Linked DNA regions of Homo sapiens. The protein of the gene in region 2 purifies or fractionates together with the protein of the main gene of each other region. This does not show direct contact. Each region holds a gene or a part of one and is shown on either strand. Other genes may lie near its edges. The genes, in order: INPPL1, POLR2M, RPAP1, RPRD1A, GPN2, USP47 and POLR2D.

The links.
Region 1: the proteins of POLR2M (region 2) and INPPL1 purify together in Homo sapiens (affinity purification with mass spectrometry; 3 studies listed by BioGRID and IntAct, with this or other methods). This does not show direct contact.
Region 3: the proteins of POLR2M (region 2) and RPAP1 purify together in Homo sapiens (affinity purification with mass spectrometry; 5 studies listed by BioGRID and IntAct, with this or other methods). This does not show direct contact.
Region 4: the proteins of POLR2M (region 2) and RPRD1A purify together in Homo sapiens (affinity purification with mass spectrometry; 4 studies listed by BioGRID and IntAct, with this or other methods). This does not show direct contact.
Region 5: the proteins of POLR2M (region 2) and GPN2 purify together in Homo sapiens (affinity purification with mass spectrometry; 4 studies listed by BioGRID and IntAct, with this or other methods). This does not show direct contact.
Region 6: the proteins of POLR2M (region 2) and USP47 purify together in Homo sapiens (affinity purification with mass spectrometry; 4 studies listed by BioGRID and IntAct, with this or other methods). This does not show direct contact.
Region 7: the proteins of POLR2M (region 2) and POLR2D purify together in Homo sapiens (affinity purification with mass spectrometry; 5 studies listed by BioGRID and IntAct, with this or other methods). This does not show direct contact.

What each region holds. Positions count from the first base shown.
Region 1 is NC_000011.10:72,234,767-72,237,206, reverse strand, and holds part of INPPL1 (phosphatidylinositol 3,4,5-trisphosphate 5-phosphatase 2), read right to left. Parts: intron 2,092-2,440; coding exon 2,004-2,091; intron 1,912-2,003; coding exon 1,756-1,911; intron 1,533-1,755; coding exon 1,454-1,532; intron 1,362-1,453; coding exon 1,221-1,361; intron 84-1,220; coding exon 1-83. UniProt on the Homo sapiens protein: Phosphatidylinositol (PtdIns) phosphatase that specifically hydrolyzes the 5-phosphate of phosphatidylinositol-3,4,5-trisphosphate (PtdIns(3,4,5)P3) to produce PtdIns(3,4)P2, thereby negatively regulating the PI3K (phosphoinositide 3-kinase) pathways.
Region 2 is NC_000015.10:57,709,714-57,713,213, reverse strand, and holds part of POLR2M (protein GRINL1A), read right to left. Parts: intron 1,231-3,500; coding exon 1,026-1,230; intron 1-1,025. Other genes in the region: GCOM1 (GRINL1A combined protein), read right to left, coding at 1,026-1,230.
Region 3 is NC_000015.10:41,527,258-41,530,757, reverse strand, and holds part of RPAP1 (RNA polymerase II-associated protein 1), read left to right. Parts: intron 1-778; coding exon 779-894; intron 895-1,189; coding exon 1,190-1,288; intron 1,289-2,421; coding exon 2,422-2,523; intron 2,524-2,730; coding exon 2,731-2,898; intron 2,899-3,152; coding exon 3,153-3,335; intron 3,336-3,456; coding exon 3,457-3,500. UniProt on the Homo sapiens protein: Forms an interface between the RNA polymerase II enzyme and chaperone/scaffolding protein, suggesting that it is required to connect RNA polymerase II to regulators of protein complex formation.
Region 4 is NC_000018.10:36,022,560-36,026,059, reverse strand, and holds part of RPRD1A (regulation of nuclear pre-mRNA domain-containing protein 1A), read left to right. Parts: intron 1-381; coding exon of another isoform or gene 382-462; exon of another isoform or gene 463-1,174; intron 1,175-3,500. UniProt on the Homo sapiens protein: Interacts with phosphorylated C-terminal heptapeptide repeat domain (CTD) of the largest RNA polymerase II subunit POLR2A, and participates in dephosphorylation of the CTD by RPAP2.
Region 5 is NC_000001.11:26,883,784-26,887,283, reverse strand, and holds part of GPN2 (GPN-loop GTPase 2), read left to right. Parts: intron 1-1,150; coding exon 1,151-1,311; intron 1,312-2,993; coding exon 2,994-3,124; intron 3,125-3,500. UniProt on the Homo sapiens protein: Small GTPase required for proper localization of RNA polymerase II and III (RNAPII and RNAPIII). May act at an RNAP assembly step prior to nuclear import.
Region 6 is NC_000011.10:11,959,680-11,962,387, reverse strand, and holds the end of USP47 (ubiquitin carboxyl-terminal hydrolase 47), read right to left. Parts: 3' UTR 501-2,708; downstream 1-500. UniProt on the Homo sapiens protein: Ubiquitin-specific protease that specifically deubiquitinates monoubiquitinated DNA polymerase beta (POLB), stabilizing POLB thereby playing a role in base-excision repair (BER). Acts as a regulator of cell growth and genome integrity.
Region 7 is NC_000002.12:127,843,053-127,845,604, forward strand, and holds the end of POLR2D (DNA-directed RNA polymerase II subunit RPB4), read right to left. Parts: 3' UTR 501-2,552; downstream 1-500. UniProt on the Homo sapiens protein: Core component of RNA polymerase II (Pol II), a DNA-dependent RNA polymerase which synthesizes mRNA precursors and many functional non-coding RNAs using the four ribonucleoside triphosphates as substrates.

The DNA.
Region 1 (2,440 bases), on a different chromosome or scaffold from region 2:
CGTAGTAGGCAGGGTTATTGAAGCTGTTCTTGGGTGGGGGGGCCGCCACCCCTTCTGGTTCAGGAGCTCCCTCTGGCTTCAACCTGGGTGTGGAAGCAGAACGACTAAGCCAGGATCCAGGAACCCAGGTCTAAGGCAGTGGAAGCAGTGGAAGGAGAACTAGACGGGAGTCAGAAAGTCCCCTGGTCCTAGACTTTCTCATGACCTTGAGCACATCACCTGCCCTTAGTTTCTTCATCTCTAAAGGTCAGAGGGAGGATAACCCTTTGAATGGATAACCCTACAATCCCTTGCCTCACTTGCTAAGATACTTAGATCTTTCATGACTTTATCTGTAGCTGTGAAACCCAAGCTAAATGGGTCAGAATAGAGGTGCCAGAAGACAGGGCAAGAAGCCTCCAATGAGAGGCCAGGTTTGGAAAGCCTCTTGAGGCACCCACAGTCAATCCGCTGCAGAATCTTTCTCAGAGATTCAGGTGGGTCTTATTCAAGCCTAGGGATAAAACCGGGGTGACTGACAACAGCTGAAGATGAGTGAAAAAGCACCAAACTGTACCTAGGAGTTTATGTAAGTTTAAGCAACAATCGGATATAATTAGAAAGCAAGCCTCACTTTCCCAAAGTGTGACACAGAGCACTAATTCCCCAGAACGTTAATAGTTACTACATGGAAAATAAGTTTCCTGGCCCATTAAGTTTGGGAAACTATATTAAACAGAGCTGAAAAGAGGTTTCCTTCCTGTCCACATGCTCAGAGCTTTTGCTAATACTAACATGCACTGGGAATGTCTAAGAAAAGAATCTAGAAAAAGCATTTCCCAAACTCATTTGACCACAAACCCATTTCAACTGGGGCCTCTTGCAGGACAGAGTTCCAAAGAAGGTACCCTGGGAAATCCCAGGCCGAGCCATGTGCCTCCTCCAAATAGAAGGCTCAAGCTAGGTCTGTTTACATGGAGGGAGCTGTCTTAGAAACAATTTCGCATTCCATTTTTAAAGGCAGAATTGAGAGGAAAGGCTGACTGCTCCCTTTGACTCAGAGCCACAGCTAAGGGTGGCCTGGCTGGCCACAGGCATAAGGCCATGGCAGCTCCAACCACAGAGTGGCAGGGCACCTAAGCAGCTGATGATCTCCAGGCCAACCCTGAGACCCTGCAGGGGATAGTGATGGATAGAGGTGGGTGGGGGAAGGGGGGGCGGTGACAGGTTCCTCCTCTCACCTGGGGGTCAAGGGCTCCTCCCGGGGAGCTGCTCGGGGTGGGGCTGGGGGCCTCCCCGTTGGTGGCGGTTTCTCTGGTTCTTCAAATAACCTGGAGAGCGGGCAGGAGGCCTCTGTGAAGGCTGGCTTGCGGCTCCCTGACCTGCCAGGGATGCACAGGAGAGAGATGAAGTGGGGTTGACCAGATGCCCCCAGGTACCCTTTCATATGACATTCAACACAGCCCTAGCTCACCTGGGCTCCTGGCTCCCTCGGGACACAGAGGGGGCTTTGCTCTTTGCTCCTGCCTCATCCTTATCAATGCTGATCCACTCTGAGGGGGCAGGAAGGGAGACTCAGAGGAGACCTGGGCTCCTGGATCCCACAGACACCCAGTGGGCCTGCCAGCCCTTTCCCAGCTATGCCTTGGGGCAGGACTATTCCCAGCTGTGGCTGCAGAACCTCCAGGTATCCCAGAGATTCCAACATGCCCCCCGCACCCTGCCCTCCTTGATCTGTTCACACCACCCTATCTCATGTCCCAGTGGAGTCCCCACCGTAGAGCCGCTCACGGGTGCCCAGGCGCTCCGTGGGCACCCGCACCTTCATGGAGCCTCTGATATTGCCTGTCTCCTCGCCACGGTGGGATAGGAAGGTCAGGAACTGTTGGGCCGTGCTGCCGATCATGGATTTGAGTGCAACCACACACTCCCCTGAGGAGCAGATGGGACAAACCAGCAAATTACCAAGCTAATCTAGGGCCCTGTCTGGCTTCCTGTTCCCCTCAGCACCCCTCACCCCTCACCATAGGATTCATAGCCATCCATGGACTTGACTGTGAGCAGGAGGTGCTGGTCCTGCAGGTACTCGATATCAGCCAGAATTGGTTTGAGCTGGGAAGCAGGGAGGCCCAGTGAGGAACAAAGCCCCGCCACTTCCTCCTGCCCCTCCTACGCGCTGCCCCCTGACACCACTCAATCCCCACCCTCAGGTCATCTGTGCTCACTCACACTCAACTCTTCAGAGAAGAGCCAAATCCTTAATGCAGAAGACACAGCCCTATACAGGCCTTTTACAGCACCTAGCATCACTGTAACTAATTAATTTTCTCAATAGCTAACACAGGACCTGACATCTAGCAAAAGCTCAAGAAGCATCTCCTGAATGAATGAACAAACTGCAACAAGGTTCCACACTCCCAAAATAAAGCAAACGCCTTTATCCTCACTCATGCCCATGCCC
Region 2 (3,500 bases):
TGTTGTTTTTTTTTTTGAGACAGGGTCTCACTCTGTCACCCAGGCTATACAGAGTGCAGTGGTGTGACTGCGGCTCACTGCAGCCTCGACCTCCTGAGCTCAAGCAATCCTCCTACCTCAGCCCCACAGGTAGCTGGAACCACAGTTGCATGCCCCAATGCCCGGCTAATTTTTTGGTAAAGATGGAGTCTAGCTATGTTGCCCACGCTGGTCTCGAACTCCTGAACAGTCTGGTGTTATACTAGTTGGTGCACTAGTACCTGACTAAAATCTAGCTAATCAATACCTAGGAAGTGAGACAGGATACTGTTCTCCTGGAGGCTAAAATTATTACTAAATACTTCTAAACTTTTCTGTTCCCCTATGGTCCTTCACACTTATTTTCTCCCATCCCATTATTCTGTATACAAACTCTCAACATACATGTTTGAAGTTCAATGCAAAACACATGGAAACAAAGTGCTATGCAAAATTGATTAAGCTGCCAAAAGCAGGAGATATTTCTCTCTTCACATGGGCCTGCAGATTATGCTCTAAAGCAGTGTCTCACTGTCTGCTGGCTACACAACATTATCCTCCCACTCCTTCTATGCCCTCCCCTGTACTGCAGAAGATGGAAGCCTGGGAACTACATTCTCCTCATTCTCTAACAAGGGGTCTGGGTTTGAGTCCGCCACTGAGAAGCTGTCACATGAGTTTTACAAGGTGAAAGGGAGAGATGCGATGCTACTACTATCCTAACAGGAACAGGCAGGTAAATGAGCTTTAAGACATGAAATTCTACAAGTCTCCCCACATCTCCAGGCAAATCACCACTTTAATGTTGAAGGTAGCTGTGATCATCTCTAGCTACTTCCTGCAGTTCTAGCAACTTTGTGACTCTCTGAAAACTAGTGGCATAGATCTGAGCTCATGGAAGCACCTAATCCCCTCTATTCCATTCCTTCCTCCTTGAACCTGGAGTAAATTCTAGCTTATGTAAGCAGCACCCAACAAACAGACAAGAAAAAAAATACTCTAAATACCTCATAATTCTGTTTCTGCTGTTTCTGAAGTGCCAAGGATTCTTCTATGGAGAGCAGCTGCGTGGGCATATGGTGAAGTGGTAGAAGCCGAGCTGCTGTGATGTCATCAAGATGCTGCTTATCCCTGCGCCGCCGCTCTTCTGAGGAAATAGGAGACCCACTCTTCTGGCAATGACTAGATGAATCATTTTGTCGAAAAGGTAACCTGATGAAAGGAAAACTTGTGTTATACAATCAGATTATTTTATTTGTAGACACATTTAAAACATTCACACAAATGGCCTTTACCTTAGCAATTAATTCTCCTCCAAAGGTAACAGTAAGTAATTTACCAGTATTCATTGCTCTAACAAATAGGGGTGTGTTTGTGTGCATACAGGCTCTTTGCCTTTTCCTTCCTTATTCAAACCTTGTATTTCATCTGGAGTTTTTTTTTTTTTTTTCATTTATTCAAAGAACATTTGCAAAAGGGCTTATTGCCCAGTAGAAAGAAATACACATGTAAAGTTTCAGTGCAATACAATACCAGAGATACTGTGATAGATATCTCAACAAGATACATTGGAACATAAGGAAATGGCCAGTTCTAGTGGGAGACAGGGAGGCTAAGAAAAGTTTCAAAAAAGCTTTGAACAGTCTTGGAATAATAACTGCTTACCCATGTAAATAAGGAGAGAAGTGCATCCCAGCAAGGGGAGTGAGAGAAAGTACAGAAGGTAGACAGACTCAGCTTTTCTGGCTACACAGAAAAGACAGCGAGAAAGAGGGCTGGGAAGTAGCCTAGGCCCAGACTGCAATGAAGAGTTCTCCGTAACAAGTTCGGATTTCCATCTTACAAATTTCACTCTGGCAGCAGTGGAGATAGACTGGTAGTTAAGACTAGAGGTAGAAGGGGCCACAATTACAGCCCGAGAGAGATGAGAGTCTTCACTTCGACAGAAGATGAAGAACAATTATAGAGATGAAGATCAAAGAAATAAGTAGGTCTTCATGGCTAGCAGATATGGAGATGAGAAAAATCGAAGATACCTTAGGGGAAGAAAACCGAGAAGGTGGTGGCACTATTAGGGAATATGGAAATCACCTTGGAAAGAAACTGCAGTTCCACTTTGTACATCATTAAGCTGAGGTACCTGGGAACACCCAAGTGATCAAGTTTCATGGTTAATTGGCTATGCAAACCTAAAGTTCTGGGAAGATCTGGGATAGAGGTGCACAGGGGTCAGCCTCCAGCATCCAGGTGATACATGAAGCCAGAAGAGTATGCAGAAGGAAGAGCAGAAAGGACCCAAAGGACACTACCTGACCCCACCTTCCAACCTCCAAGCCACCTCTCACACGGAACCCTCTCAATCCCTACCTGTCTATGGCCTAAGGACTCCTCAAAGCCCTGCCTTTCCTGTTCTCCTCTAACTTATACAGGAGGCTCCCTGTCTCTTAAACTTCCTGAATTCTTGGTAGCCCTCTTCACTATTCCCTTACCTCTCTCCCACTCCCAGCTAAATGACCATAATACAGAACTGGGATTAATGTATTCTTTGTTTTATTTATTGACTAGATGATGGTTCTAGTTTTCTAAAATGTCATCCTGGAAGTGAAGAAAGATACCCCACTGTACACAAGAGAGTACTTGATCACGTTAATGTAGTATAATCCTGATTTTCTATACAGCAGAAATAAAATGTTTTGAGGTTAAAATGAATGCTGGGGTAGAATTAAAGTCTAACAAAAAAGAAGCATGTTTTAGATACTTTTCACTAGAGGTTTTCTGTTTTTCAAAGAAAGGTAGTAGTGATTTAACTTTGATGTTACATACTTGTAAATACAATATAGGAAGAAGGTACCAGTTACCTGAGTTGAATGTTACATTTGCTGCAAGTAAATAGCAATTATTTTCAAAAAGATTTTACTTTTCCTGAAATTTCAGAAACAAATTTATGGCAAGGAACTGATAAGCAGAGTTTTTGCCTATCCTGCCTGAATCTATTTTCACAGTTTTTCAAACCTCTTCTCAGCTTCCTTCCCCCTGAAACTGTTATTATTATGTAGCTTAACTCTTTTCCAAGTGTGTAAACCTTGGGTCCTCATGTAGCTCTTAAACTCCTTGAAGAACATGGTATTGTATTACATTACACATGTATACATTACAGCCATGTTTTTAAACTTGAGATTTAACATCAAAAAAGGCAAAGGAGTTTTAAGAATCTTGACTTAATTGTGTCCCCACAACACCTGCTGCTTGCTTACATACAGTGAGCATGCAAATAATTTCTGCTGGAAAGCCCATCAGCTCCTGCAATTGCTTTACCCTTAGTTCACAGACTAATCAAAGAGAGTACACTTTGATAGTACACTAATCAAAGCTGTACACTAAAAAATGGTTCTGAAAAAAAGAAGTCATAATAAATTCTCTCCAACTCTGTGTTTATTATGAAATACTGGCTAAGCATCCTAAAATTTAACACTCCCCCATGT
Region 3 (3,500 bases), about 16 Mb from region 2:
CCGCTCCCGGCAGACTATCTTCCTGTCCTTGCTGTAGCTGCCCCAGCTCTGGCTCTGTCCATCCCACTGTTCTTTCTCTCTCTGCTCACAGTGCTGGGGGAAAGATGGCAGGGCCAGAGTAATAAGAGAGGCAGAATCTGACAAAGATCTTATGAACATGCCAGACCAGAAGCAGAGAGGCCAGTGGAAGCACTCATTTCCCAGAAACTAGATTATTTCATTAGTGATTAACAAAATAAGAAATTGAATTATGAGAGCCAGGAACCTCATGCCCCCGGAGGAGCTCCAGGCCAGCTGAGCAGGTTGGGTGGGGGTAGGCGTGAAGGAGGAAAATGCTGTGGGATTTGTTTCTGTATCCTGCCCCCCAGGAGCAGTATAGTTGCCTCCTCCTCATTGTCCCCACTCTCCTACTCCTTTAAGGGCTGGTACTGGAAAGTGGAGATGGTGCCTTCCTGACATATGTGGTCCTCCTTCTTCATCTTTTTCTCCTTTCTTTCTCTTTCTTCCTTCTCCTTCTCCTCCTCTCTCCCCTCCCAACAAATCCTTGGGGTCAGCAAGGGGCTGGAGCCCAGGATGGAGTGTGTCTGTCATATTTGAGACTTTCACCCCAGCCCCAGGAGTTCCAGTCCCTGGGCCATGCCATTTAGCCATAACCGAGGGTAGAAGCTGGCAGATCCTGGAACAGAAGTGGATGTGGCAGCTGCTGGGTGATGGTGGGGACCCCTGTGGATAGTGAGCTGAGCCGTTTGGGTAATACTATCATGCTTTGTCTCCCCAGCTCTGGCATTGCCCGTGACCCCTCAGAAAGAATGGCTGCACATGGACACTGTCGAGCTGGAGAAGCTCCACTGGACCCAGGACTTGCCCCCTGTCCGGCGGCAGCAGACACAGGAGGTGAGGAGGGCCACCTGGCCTACAAGGGGTGGGTGAGATAGGGCAGGAGAGGAGCTGCTGCTCTTGCCCTCAGAACTCAGGCCTTTCTATTGCCCAGAGCCTGAGAAGCATCTCTCCTTTGCTCTCACCCACCTTTACCATCACTCTGCCTGGCCCCCAAGGCCAGATAAGCCCCATTTCTGGTAGAAGTAGAGTCAGTACCTAAGTCCTGAAAGGCCTGGGATTAAAGGTGGGGAGTGGGTGTGGGAAGGTTGCTGGAGCCCCCAGACCACAGTCCTCTTTCTCTTCCCATTAGAGGATGCAGGCTCGATTCAGTCTTCAGGGAGAACTACTGGCCCCTGACGTGGACCTGCCCACCCACCTGGGTCTGCACCACCATGGAGAGGAGGCAGAGGTGAGGCATGGGACTGGAGAGGATGGGGCAGCTCTTTTAACAACCCCATGGAAAAGGATCTCTGGTCAACTGCCTTTGACCTTCTGTGTGCCCTGTTCTAGTTCATGCCTTTGCTGTGCATTCAGTTTCTTTTTTTGGAGACAGAATCTCGCTCTGGCCCAGGCTGGAGTGCAGTGGTATGATCTTGGCTCACTGCAGCCTCCACCTCCTGGGTTCAAGCCATTCTCCTGCCTCAGCCTCCTGACTAGCTGGGATTACAGGCGCATGCCACCACGTCCAGCTAATTTTTGTATTTTTAGTAGAGACGGGGTTTCACCATGTTAGCCAGGATGGTCTTGATCTCCTGAGCTTGTGATCCGCCTGCCTCGGCCTCCCAAAGTGCTGGGATTACAGGCGTGGCATTCAGTTTCTTAGGCTCAAAATCTTGATCCTCTCTCCGTATTCTGGTCAGTTGCTAGAATTTGCCGATCTTCTGTCACCTCCTCATGATGCCTCCTGCACTGTGGCCTTGCTTCCTTGGTCTGCTCACTCTCCATGCCCTCCATTCTCCGCCCCCCTGCCATTCCATGTCTCTCGGGGCTGCTGTGCTGATTTCTTCTGGCCCAGCTCAGGCCATGCCTTGCCTCCAGAAGTTTCCCAGCTTCCCTCTGCTCACAAAATAAGGTTCTGGTCTCAGCTGGGCAAGATATTCCTTCTACCTTTTGTCCCTGCTGACCCTGCTGCTCTGCCTCCTTCACTTCCTGCTACACCACTCTGCTGGCTTCTCCCCACATACCTCCTGTGCTCAGGGCCCTCCAGGACTCCACTCGCTCCAGGAAATGCCTTTGCCTTTTGCTCCATGTCAGGCCATCAAAGCTCTACCCATCCACTGAGACCAATTTAATTTTCCAGGTTCCCTTCTCTCTCTCTCCTGTCCGCCGGTCGCAAATTAAACATCAGTTATCACGTTCCTCTGCATCTGCCTCATGGCATGGTTACTTGTATGCAAGTCTTATCTTTACCGGCTTGAGGCTCCATGGAAAGCAGGGCAGATTTCACTTATTTATCTTTGTCTTTCCTGTGATACCTTGCTTGGTGTTTTGGGGGCACTGTGCTGTATCCTGGCTGCTTCTGACTTCTTGTCCCTGCCCCAGAGAGCGGGGTATTCCCTACAGGAGCTGTTCCACCTGACCCGCAGCCAGGTTTCCCAGCAGAGAGCACTGGCACTGCATGTGTTAGCCCAGGTCATCAGCAGGGTGAGTGGATTGCCAGCCTGGTCCTGCCCACCCTTCCCTTCACCCCACAGCCTCAGACTTCCCCATCTCCTGCCCTTTTCACTCTGGCTCACTAGCCAGCTATGTGCTTTTAACAACCTAGGATCATAGGGGGGCAAACGAAGGATTAGGGCAAAGCCTCTAGATAACTTCAGCATCTTCAGCAAGGTTTTACCCTCCTGCCCTCAGGCCCAGGCTGGTGAGTTTGGGGACCGGCTAGCAGGCAGTGTCTTAAGCCTCCTTTTGGATGCTGGTTTCCTCTTCCTACTGCGCTTCTCCTTGGATGACAGAGTGGATGGGGTCATTGCAACCGCCATCCGTGCTCTTCGGGCTCTGCTGGTGGCTCCTGGAGATGAGGTACCACAGGGATAGGAATGGGGCTTGGGCTGGGAGGTGCCAGGGTCCATATTCCTGTTCCTGGGCATGGCCCCATTGCTAAGGCTTTGCGGGCAAGATGTAGAATGGGATGGCAGGCGTCTCCCTCATCTCCTAAAGTCCCTAAAGCCCAGGAGGCTTGCCTTTATGGTTTTTATTGGGGAGCATCCTCTCTACTCCTGGATCCATTTCCTGGCCCCTTCAGCATTGCCCCCCAACTCCCGTTCCTCTGGCAGGAGCTCCTCGACAGCACCTTCTCTTGGTACCATGGAGCTTTGACGTTCCCTCTGATGCCCAGCCAGGAGGACAAGGAGGATGAGGACGAGGATGAAGAATGCCCAGCAGGAAAAGCAAAAAGGAAAAGCCCTGAAGAAGAAAGCCGGCCTCCACCTGACCTGGCCCGACATGATGTCATCAAGGTAAAGGGACAGCTTCTTTCCCATCCCATGGCCCAGGGGACAAGCACATGCTGGAAAGAGGGGCCATCAATGCCCAGGGTCCAGCTGCATTTGTCAGTGGGTTTCTCTCTCCAACTCCCAGGGGCTCCTGGCTACCAGCCTGCTGCCTCGGCTGCGCTACGTGCT
Region 4 (3,500 bases), on a different chromosome or scaffold from region 2:
GATTAGATTGCCATTGCTACCCATGGGAGCTGCTACTTAATTATTCCCACCTCAAATTCCCAGCTCTCAAGTTAGCACTACTCCTTTGCAATTTACTCCTTCTCTGCTCGTATAAATACCCTCAGATGATGATAGTTGGTGGCCACTATACCTTTGAAGAGGTTGCCCACTTCTACATGGAAAGGAAAAGATGGTTTTTTTTTTTAAAAGATGAATTTGATAATTAACTTGCCACTATTTCACCTTGTGATGAAACCTCAATTTTAAACATAGTGTTAATTGTTTTATTGTCCACAGAATTAAGGGTAAGTAATGTCATACAATTTTTGTCTTTAGTCTTTTAGTATGGTTTCTTTAACTTCTATTGAGCTTCTGTTGCAGATATTGGACATGGGCGTATCTTCTAACGATGTCGTCACCATTAGTATATTCTTCCTGCTAAAAATAAATATCAAACCCTGAAGCCTGTATTGTCTCATGTTTTTGAAAATTGAAGAGAAGACTGTAACTTTATTCTGCTTTATACTTTCTCACTTATGATGATGGTCATTTGTCACTGTTTACAAAAACAGAATTTATATTTGAAGTGTAACTGTAGAAAATAGATCAGATGCCACTCCCCACAACCCCCTTTTCCCCCAGTGCCTTCCAGCCACATTTCATAGTTGACAGTCATAGATTATGAGGCTGATGATAATAATAATGTTAACATTCATGTGTCAGGTACTATTCTAGGCACTTCACATAAGCAACTCATTTAATCTTACACAGCAGGATGTATTATCCACATTTGATAGATACAGAACTGAGGCACAGGAAGATTAAGTAACTTGCCTAAGGTCACAAAGAGCTAGTGAGTTGTTTGGAACGCAGAGAATCTGCCTCCAGAGCCAGTGCACTTCATCAAAAAGACACATTGCTTCCTGTTTTTACTTAAATCTAAGATTAAAGCAAATGCTAAAGTCCTATTTTTTCCAACTTTTTCTGCTCCCTCTCTTCTCAGAGGTAATCACTGTCTTGAAATAAAGCCTTCTAGGAACTTTTTTTGTTGTTCTTCTGCATAACTGGATTTTATATTATAAAGAAGAAATCACCTCAATTATGTTCAGCTGTTTTTTAACAAGTAAATACTCTTTACAAGTACAGAAATAAACTTGAAAGTTATTCCACAGAACTCTTTGTAAATTATCACTTAGAACTATGTTATTCCTTTGTAGAAGATGTGGAAATGATTTGAGATATTTAGACTTTTTTGTACCAAGTAGGTGGCATCACTTTGAAGTTGAGACTGAGAGGTGAAGATTTATGTTTTCTGAATCAGCTGTGATACTATCAAGTAATTTTCATCTATTGTGTATCTTTGAACATTAACAGTGGTTGACCAGATACTGATGTGTCATTTGTTGCTGCATTTTTGATAATGGAACATAAATTTAAAGTATCAGTTCGGGAATTGGCCATTTCATATTTCTTAAGGAAGCCATTATTAAAGCATGTGTAATGAATGAAAACATGAAGTGGTTTAAAATTTGTGTTTTAAGACAATCATTATTTTTGAAACTTCTGACTATAGTTGGTTACTAAGCAGAAGCAGATAACTGTTGGGCCGGGTGTGGTGGTTCACGCCTGTAATCTCAGCACTTTGGGAAGCTGAGCTGGGTGAATCACTTGAGGTCAGGAGTTCAAGACCAGCCTGGCTGACATGGTGAAACCCCATCTCTACTTAAAAAAAAAAAAAAAAAAAAATTAACCAGGTGTGGTGGTGGGTGCCTGTAGTCCCAGCTACTTGGGAGGCTGAGGCAGCAGGATCACTTGAACCTGGGAGGTGGAGGTTGCAGTGAGCTGAGATCACACCACTGCCCTCCAGACTGGGCGACAGACCGAGACTCCATCACGCGCGTGCGCGTGCACACACACACACGAGATAACTGTTAAAATAGACTATTAATAACTTTAGTTTACATTTATAATATTTAGGGATTGCTATAGGAATCATTTTACCATTATGAAGTTGAAAGTATTGCATAAACTGTTTTTCAGTTAGCTTATTATCTTGGAAGGCATACATGAATAGGAGAATTAAAATGACATTTTGACTTTGACATTGTTTCCTAGTACATACAAAAGTTATGTTTACAACTTTACTGTTGTCTAAGTATTACAATTACACTTTACTGTTGTCTAAGCATTAGGATTACATATAAAATTACATATAAAAAATGTACGTATCTTAGTTAAAAATGCTTCATTGCTAAAAAAGACTAATCATCTGAGCCTTCTGTTAGTCATAGTCTTTGCTGGTGGAGGGTCTTGCCTTGATATTGATGGCTGTTGACTGATTAGGGTGGTGATTGCTGAAGGATGTGGCTATGGCAGTTTATTAACACAGTGATAAAGTTTGCTGCATCAGTTGACTTCTTTCTTGAAAGATTTCTCTGTAGGATGCAGTACATTTGATAGCATTTTGCCTACAGCAGAACTGCTTTCAAAATTAGAAGCAATTTTCTCAAGCCCTGCTACTGCTTTATCAAGTAAATCCTTTGTTGTCATTTCATCTCCACTGGGAGTAGATTCCATCTCAGGAAACCACTTTATTTGCCCATCCATAAGAAGCAACTCCTCACCAACAAGTTTTATGAGATTGGAGCAGTTCAGTCACATCTTCAGGCTCCACTTCTGTGTCTCGTTCTCTTGCTATTTGCAGCAGATCTACAGTTATTTTCACCACTGAAGTCTTGAACCCCACAAAGTCAGCCATGAGAATTGGAGTAAACTTCTTCCAAACTCCTGTTAATGTTGATATTTTATCTCCTCCCATGAATCATGAATGTTTTTAATGCCATCTAGAATTGTGAATCATTTTCTGAAAGTTTTCAGTTACTTTGCCGATATTCATCACAGGAATGACTATGGCAGCTATATAGCCTTACGAAATGTATTTCTTAAATAGTGAGACTTGAATGTCAAAATTGCTCTTTTATCTATAAGTGGCAGAACACGTGTTAGCAGGCATGAACACTAGTCACATTGTACATCTTCATCAGAGCTCTTGGGTGACCAGGTATGTTGTCAATAGTAATTTTTTATTATTGTTATTTTGGAGACAGTCTCTTGTTCTGTCACCCAGGCTGGAGTAGTCATGCAATCACAGCTCACTGTAACCTCGAACTCATGAGTACAAGTTATCTTCCTGCTTCAGCTTCCAAAGTAGCTAGGACTGCAGGTGTGTGCCACCATGCCTGGCTAATTTTTAAATGTTTTGTAAAGAAGAGTTCTTGCTGTGTTGCCCAGGCTAGTCTTGAACTCTTGGGTCAAGCAGTCCTCCCACCTGGGCCTCCCAAAGTGCTGTGACTACAGGTGGGAATCACTACATCTGGCCAATAGTAATATTTTGCAGGTCTCAACAGTTGGCTTAAAATACTCAGTAAACTATGCTGTAAATAGATGTATTGTCATCTATACTTGTTTCTTTTATAGAGCACAGGCAGAGTAAATTTAGC
Region 5 (3,500 bases), on a different chromosome or scaffold from region 2:
TTAGTGAGAAATGATTTATAAAACTGAATCAGGGACCTCAGCATCATCTAGTCCTTATTTTACATTAAGAAATAACTGGCTCAGAAAAGGAAAGTGATTTACCCAGGAGGCTACCCTGCTAGAATGTAGCATTTATTCAGTTTAACCATTTACAGAGTCTTTGCAGTGTATGTGCCAGGTCCTGAGGGTATGACCTGACTATGAGCTCTGTGAGGTGAGGACGACCATGCACAGTTCTTGGTACATACTTGTTATCATTATTTGCAACTTTTTTTTTTTTTTTTTTTTTTGAGACAGAGTTTCGCTCTTGTTGCCCAAGCTGGAGTGCAATGGTGTAATCTCGGCTCACTGCATCCTCCGCCTCCTGGATTCAAGCGATTCTCCTGCCTCAGCCTCCCGTGTAGCTGGGATTACAGGCATGTGCCACCACGTCCGGCTAATTTTGTATTTTTTTTTCTTTTTTTTTGAGACGGAGTCTTGCTGTGTCGCCCAGGCTGGAGTGCAGTGGCGCGATCTCGGCTCACTGCAAGCTCCCCCTCCTGGGTTCACGCCATTCTCCTGCCTCAGCCTCCTGAGTAGCTGGGACTACAGGCACCCGCCACCACGCCCAGCTAATTTTTTGTATTTTTAGTAGAAACAGGGTTTCATCGTGTTAGCCAGGATGGTCTCGATCTCCTGACCTTGTGATCCGTCCATCTCCCAAAGTGCTGGGATTACAGGCTTGAGCCACCGCACCTGGCCTAATTTTGTATTTTTAGGAGAAATGGAGTTTCACCATGTTGGCTGGTCTTGAACTCCTGACCTCAGGTAATCACCCACCTCGGCTTCCCAAAGTGCTGGGATTACAGGCATGAGCCACCGTGCCCAGCCTGTTTGCAGTTATTGATCAAGCACTTCTCTGTACCAGACACTGGGGTTTATAGCATTTAATCTTCATAACAGTCCTATGAAGTAGATACCTGCCTATATAGCTAGTAAATAGCAGAGCCAGCAGGTAAAACCAAATGCTTTTTTTCTTAGTAACTTCATTTTACTGTGTCAAGAAATATTTGAGTGCATGAGTGCACAAAGGAAAAAAGGAAAAAGGAACCTCGTCCTCAGGTCTTTAGCCTGATACTGGTTGCTCCTGAACACTGGTTTCTCTCTTTAGCCTTCAACCTGGACTACTACACAGAGGTTCTGGACCTCTCCTACCTGCTTGACCACCTGGCTTCTGACCCTTTCTTCCGCCACTACCGCCAGCTCAATGAGAAGCTAGTGCAGCTCATCGAAGACTATAGCCTTGTCTCCTTTATCCCTCTCAACATCCAGGTACTAGGGGCTAAGACGGGACTCTTGACAGTGCATGGGATTCACCAAGCCAAAAGCACAGGAAGCTTTGAGGGCTTAAAGAATGGTCTTTGCCGGCTGGGCGCGGTTGCTCAAGCCTCTAATCCTAGCACTTTGGGAGGCCGAGGTGGGCAGATCATGAGGTCAGGAGATCGAGACCATCCTGGCTAACCCAGTGAAACCCCGTCTCTACTAAAAATACAAAAAATTAGCTGGGCGTGGTAGCAGGTGCCTGTAGTCCCAGCTACTCAGGAGGCTGAGGCAGGAGAATGGCGTGAACCCGTGAGGCAGAGCTTGCAGTGAGCCGAGACCACGCCATTGCTCTCCAGCCTGGGCGACAGAGTGAGACTCCATCTCAAAAAAAAAAAAAAAAAAAGAGTGGTCTTTGCCCTGGGTTGAGTATCACTGAGAGTAACCTTAGTTTCAGGACCAGGGGCTGCTGTAGGGGCAGAATTCCAGTAAAGAGAGTGGACCAAACTTTTGCCCTGTCTATTTTGTGTTGCTGGATCCTCTCTTCACATGTTCTGTCCTCTGTGAAAATGGGTGAGTTCAGAAAGTCATCAGCAAGAAAGTTCACCAGGACCAGGGACAAGTCTCTTAAGCCCTTTCAACTGGGCAACTGTCTGTTGACTTTGCAAAGTGGTACCCAACCCCTGTGCCTCTCACCTTTACCCTGCAGAGATAACCTGGGAGACGCAGGTGCATGTTAGATTCCTTTCTGCAGTGGGTGGACTTGAGCTAACTTGTCTCCTCCCTTCTAATGCCACACTCTTCTGATATGAGGAGATGAACTCTATAATATCAATCACAACAATTACCTCTTATTTATGGCTTTCTGTGCTGGGCACTGTGCTAAGGACTACACATACATAATTTTGCTTTGTCCTTCCCACCATGTGATATATGGACTGTTCTTATCACTGTATGTGGATGAGGAAACAGTTATAGTTTTTTTTTGTTTTGTTTTGTTTTTTGTGACGGAGTCTCACTCTGTCACCCAGGCTGGAGTGCAGTGCGTTATCTTGGCTCACTGCAACCTCTGCCTCCTGGGTTCAACCGATTCTCCTGCCTCAGCTTCCCAAGTAACTGGGATTACAGGCATCCATCACCATGCCCAACTAATTTTTGTATTTTCAGTAGAGACAGGGTTTCACCATGTTGGCCAGGCTGCTCTTGAACTCCTGACCTTAAGTGATCTACCTGCCTTGGCCTCCCAAAGTGCTGGGCTTTACAGGTGTGAACCACCGTGCCTGGCCCAGTTATAGATTTAAAACATGCATATTCATTGGATGTCTACTTAAGAGAAGTACTGTGCCAGGCACTGGGAATACTGCGACAGATGACCTGGCCCTAAGGGGTGTTTAGTTGAGTAGGGGAGGCAGGTGAGTTAATAGGCGTTTATTACATGGCAGGGATACCATGTACAATAGGTGTAAACCCAGGGGACTGTGGATATGCATAGGGGAGCTTATCTGTTCTAATCTGAGTGAGTTGGTGGTCAGGAAACATGAGATTTATCCAGCCTTTGGGGACATGTAGAACTACTCCAGGCCAAGAAAGCTACAGGTACAGAGGCAAGATGGAGGAAGGTGTATTTAGAGATTGCAAGCAGTTTTACATACTTCTGTTTCACTCACAGAACTGTTTCTCTCCTCCCTGCTCAGGACAAGGAGAGCATCCAGCGAGTCCTGCAGGCTGTGGATAAAGCCAATGGATACTGTTTCAGAGCCCAAGAGCAGCGAAGCTTGGAAGCCATGATGTCTGCCGCAATGGGAGCCGACTTCCATTTCTCTTCGTATCCTTGCCAGCTTCCTGGCCATAGCAGAGAGGGTGAGACATGGGACTCAAGAATGGCCACAGGAGGTGCAGTCATCAACCTTGTGGATGACCAATTTCTTTTTTTTTTTTTTTTTTTGAGATGGAGTCTTGCTCTGTCGCCCAGGCTGGAGTGCAGTGGCACGATCTCAGCTCACTGCAAGCTCTGCCTCCCGGGTTCACGCCACTCTCCTGCCCCAGCCTCCTGAGTAGCTGGGACTACAGCCACCCACCACCACGCCCAGCTAATTTTTTGTATTTTTAGTAGAGACGGGGTTTCACTGTGTTGGCCAGGATGGTCTTGATCTCCTGACCTTGTGATCCACCCAATTTCTTTTTTCTTTTTTTTTTTTGAA
Region 6 (2,708 bases), on a different chromosome or scaffold from region 2:
CACAGCCAGAGCAAGCAATGACAAAACAAAGACAGTCAACCCGATGTGGGAACAGAGGTGTTACGGAAGCCTCAGTGGAGCACTTGGGGAGAGCTGGCATGGGAACTGGCTCTTGAAGATGATAGGAGTTTATCAGGAAGCCAGAGGGCACAGGAAAGGGCTTTCTGGGCCATGGGCAGAGGGAGGGAGGCACAAGGGTCAGGTGCCATGTAGGGGAAACTGCAAGTCATTTGCAGTGGCTGGAAGGCAAGGAAAGCTTGAGGAAGCATTTAGAGAAGAGGCTAAAAATTATGTCATCCAAAAAATGATTGAAAACATTGTGGTAAATGAGATAAAACTAGGTCCCCCATAGTTGTATATGTAGATATAGTAGGCTGCTCCATTTTGTCATGATAGCCACAAACTTGTAAGAACACGAGAGGCTTTGCAAAATACTTAGCTGAAGCCAGCATCTGAGTAGCATCTGAGTGTCTCCTTTACTCAGTCCTGAGTGAAATGTGGGAGGGGCTGGGTGGAGGTGGTGCTTGAATACCTTGCTGCTGCTCTCTCCCAAAGCCAGAGTTCCTGCCAAGCCATGGCAGATGCCGTCAGGTAAACTGCTCAACAGCTGTTCTCAGTCCCTCCAGCAGCTAGGGCTGGCCCCATGACCCAGGAAATGTAAGGGGAGGGCTCCCAGAGTTTCTGGAATTTTTTCCCAATTGACAAAAGGAGAGTGGCAAACAAGAATGGAGCTCCTGCCCTCCATCCACTTCCCCTGCCTTTGAGTATGGTGCTCAGGAAGCGACATTTGGCTCTGGGGCAGCCATCTGGTGATCATGTGATCAACAGGGCTGCATTCCTCTGGAGGCTCTGGGGAGAGTCCATTTCCTTGCTGTTTTTTAGCCTCTATAGGTCACTGGCATTCCTTGGCTCATGGGCCCCTTCATCTTCAAATCCTGCAATGACAGTTCTGTCCTTCTCAGGTGCCAGCTCTCTGGCTTTCTACAGGTGGGAAAGGTTCTCCACTTCTGGGGACCCATGTGATCAAATTGCGCCCACCTAGATAATCCAGAATAATCTTCCCACGTCAAGGTCCTTAACCTTAATTGCATCTGCAAAATCTCTTTTGCCCTGTCAGGTAAATAATCACAATCTTCCCACGTCAAGGTCCTTAACCTTAATTGCATCTGCAAAATCTCTTTTGCCCTGTCAGGTAAATAATCACAGGATACAGGGTTTAGGATGTGGCCCTACCACAGAAAGAGTCTTTGAGTCCTTGACATTGAGGAGGAAACCAATCCTGTTCTCCACCATCTCTGGACACCTTAAGTAAACCACCGATATTATTATTGATAAAGCTGGTGTTAGCTTTTCTGTTATTTGAAGCCAAAAAGCATTTCTGACACAGGAGCTATTTGCATGATGAACCATAGCCTGCAGGAGAACAAAGCCCAACTGGTTCTCTGGGCCTGTGGGGAGGGAGGATGAGGTTGAAGAGGGAAGGGAGGGGCCTGCTGTAGTGTGAGGGACAAAGACAGGAAGAGAAAAAAGGCATTAGGTATTCCTGTGGTCTGCACATCCTCTCCAGATACTCAAGAAATGCAATTCAACTATTTGGAGATTACTTTTTGATAGCTATGCTTGGTTTCTAAATGCAGCTAGGCCCCTGCACACAGGGCTTGCTGAAAGTGGCCACCTCAGCAGCAGCAGCACAATTGCCCTGTATAAAGATGACCAAGGGAGGGTGAAATCCCCTTTTGGGAGATTGTGGTGTTTGGAAAACAGATTCTTCCCCTCCCTGACACTCCGTTGAGGGAGGAGAGGTTAGATTTTATTCCCTTGGCTGAAACTTCTGAGGGGAACTTTTTGAGACACTCATGGAAGATCAAATTGAGGGTTGAAGACTTGGTAGGGACTAGTGCAGCATGGGATAGTGGTATTCACTGCAGAGAAGTGTCTGCCAGCAGGAGGCTGGCAAGACACTGTCAAATTTCATGAGGGAGCACCAATGCTGTTAGGAGTTGGGTCCTTTGCTGATAGGACCTGCAGGGCATCTACCTTCATGTCTACAAAAAAGTTACTAGTGACCAGGCACAAGGGGACAGTAACCTTACCAGCCTCATTGCTAAGAAGTGGTTAGCACATGTCTTCCCCCCGCTCTTCCTGGCCTCTTCCACCACCAGTCAAGCTGGTGCAGGAGTTGGCAGGGACAGCACATCTTGGAGGCACTATGGAGGTTCAGGGGAGCTTTGAATGAAACCACTGAACTTTAAGATAAGATTGTCTTAATAATGCAAAATGACTTAAAAGTCACAGGATTGCACTGAGCACTTGATAAGCCCACTGCCCAGTGGGTAACTGCATTTGACAAAACAATTGGCACAGTTATGAAAAAAATGTAAGCATTGAGTATTTTTATCTCCATAAATTATACTCTTCAAGCAGGTTACTTAAGCATTATAAAAGAGGCTGAAAACAGGTGGGGAGAGGGCAGGTGGGAAACATGGAAAGCAGAGGGAAGGGGAGCTTGGTGCCCACCTGTGAGGCAAGGTTTTAGGGTCCAATAACAATTTCTGACCTGGTGAGCTGACACTCAGTTGAGATCAATTCTCTTGTACAGGTGAGCTGGTGAGGAGGTGGAAAGGGGCAGTGCTGTGATGGGGAAGGGGCAGAGCATTCCTCTCAACTCTCTTTTGCCCTCCTAGCTTGACCTACTGATGGCTGCACTC
Region 7 (2,552 bases), on a different chromosome or scaffold from region 2:
TGTTTAGTTCCAAACTGCTCTTCCGCTGATGAAGAGAGGAGAGCCGGGTGTAGGCACAAATACTGATCAGAATCTACCCAGGACCTGCAGTCTCCCTAGTCCCATCTCCCATTCAGGAGTTGCAAACAGGTACTTTTATCTAGTCAAAGATCTTTACAGAAACTTGAGAGCTGTAACCACATATATTTCCTCAATATTTCTCACCGCAATTGTTAGGTTAGACCCTGACAACTGAGCCACACCACTACTGGGACTGACCCTTGACCCAGAACTCTCCCCAAGGAAAACTTCAATATGAGCTGGATATTCAATAACATGCAATACTTGTCAATGTTCCTAAGTGCTATAATGCCCCATTCCTAGCAATGAAATACAGATAAAGCAAATAGCATGTTATCCGTTACATCAAGATGGTGAACACACAGGTATCAATGTACTAGTCTTTCCAGGTTTTCTGTTAAGTATAAAATTTTTTGTAAAAAAATTATCTGACACCAGTGGCATATTTAGTGCTTTTTATTAACAGTATTACTAAGGCAACTCATCGATGCTGAAGTCCCATCCAGTATGCTATTTTTCATGCCTCAGGTCTAATAAATCTTAATAAAACCAGAATGACTAGATGCTATGGTCTGAATGTGCCCCCTCCCACCCAATTGATACATTGAACCCATCACTGATGTAGTATTAAGAGGTGGGGTCTTTGGCAGGTGATTAAGTCATGAGAGAATATCCCTCATGAAGGGGATTAATGCCCTTATAAAAGAGGCTGCGGGCTGGGTGCAGTGACTCATGCCTCTAATCTCAGCATTTGGGAGGCGGAAACAGGTGGACTGCTAGAGGTCAGAAATTCCAGACCAGCCTGGGCAACATGGCGAAACCCCGTCTCTACAAAAAATAAATTAGCCAGGCATGGTAGCTCGTGCCTGTGGTCCCAGCTATCCAAGAGGCTGAGGTGGGATGATCGCTGGAGAGTGGGAGATTGAGGCTGCAGTGAACCTTAATCATGCCACTGCACTCCAGCCTGGGCGACAGAGCAAGATCCTGCTGTATCCAAAAAAAAAAAAAAAAAAAGCCTGGTCCTTCCATCCCTTCTACCATAAGGAGTGTTCATTCCCTATGGAAGATGCAGAAAAAAAGGCACCATCTTGGACCAGAAAGCCGCCCTTGCCAGACACTGAACGTACCAGCACCTGGATCTTGCATTTGCCAGCCTCCAAAACTGTGAGAAATAAATTCCTATTATTTATAGGTTACCCAGTCTAAGGTATTCTGTTACAGCGCAGGAACAAACTAAGACACTAAAACTTTCAGAAAGACTTATCTGGTTAATTTAGCTTTCTGGTGAAGTGAGGGTTTGACAACCTATCTTTTTGTTGTATCAGTATGTTCCCAAATTCTTTCCTGATTTTACACAGTACAATGAGCCTAACAATGTTTCACAAATTGTGCAAGGTCTCCTAATAGCTATTTTTCAATAGCAATATGCTGTCCAGCCCTGTAAACAATTTTTGACTGTCTTGCAGAATAGCTGACCAGGCTTTCAACCTACAACAGCATGAGGTTGCTTTACCAAGTTCCCTAGTATGAGCTGCTTTTTATTATTTTATTTTTTTTCAAGATGGAGTCTCGCTCTTGTTGCCCAGGCTGGAGTGCAATGGCATGATCTTGGCTCACTGCAACCTCCACCTCCCGGGTTCAAGCAATTCTCCTGTCTCAGCTTCCCAAGTAGCTAGGATTACAGGTGCCCGCCACCACACGTGGCCAATTTTTGTATTTTTAGTAGAGACAGGGTTTCACAACGTTGGCCAGGCTGGTCTCGAACTTCTGACCTCTGGTGATCCACCCGCCTCGGCCTCCCAAAGTGCTGGGATTACAGGTGTGAGCCACCGCGCCCAACTGTGAGCTGCTTTTTAAATCTGCTTTTAATCACCTTGATAAATACCACTGATTAGTGCCTAACTATGTGCCAGAGCATTATATACTTCAGTATTCTCAGGTAGCTCACAGAACCCCTGGCACATAGGTGGAAACACCAGTAAAGATGGTAGCACCGTGCTCCTCAGTTGCCATCTAGCACACGCCTGGATCGTCTGGGCTGCCTTCCAAGTCTCTTCTTCCCATTCCACTGCTTTAGTGCCAATCAGCACATGTAAGTGCCTCTCTCAAGAAATAATTCTGCAGTACTCACTTTGGCAGCACATATACCCAAATTGGAACAATACAGAGAAGACAGCATGGCCACTGCCCAAGAATGACATGCAAATTCATCAAGCATTAAAAAACGAAAGTTAACTGTAGATTTGGGTAAGCAATTTCACTTTTTTTTTTTTTTTTTTTTTGAGACAGTTTCGCTCTTGTTGCCTAGGCTGGAGTACAATGGTGCAATCTTGGCTCGCCACCCCCTCTGCCTCCCAGGTTCAAGCAATTCTCCTGCCTCAGCCTCCAGAGTAGCTGAGATTACAGGCATGCGCCACCACGCCCCGCTAATTTTGTATTTTAAGTAGAGACGGGGTTTCTCCATGTTGGTCAGGATGGTCTCAAACTCCCAA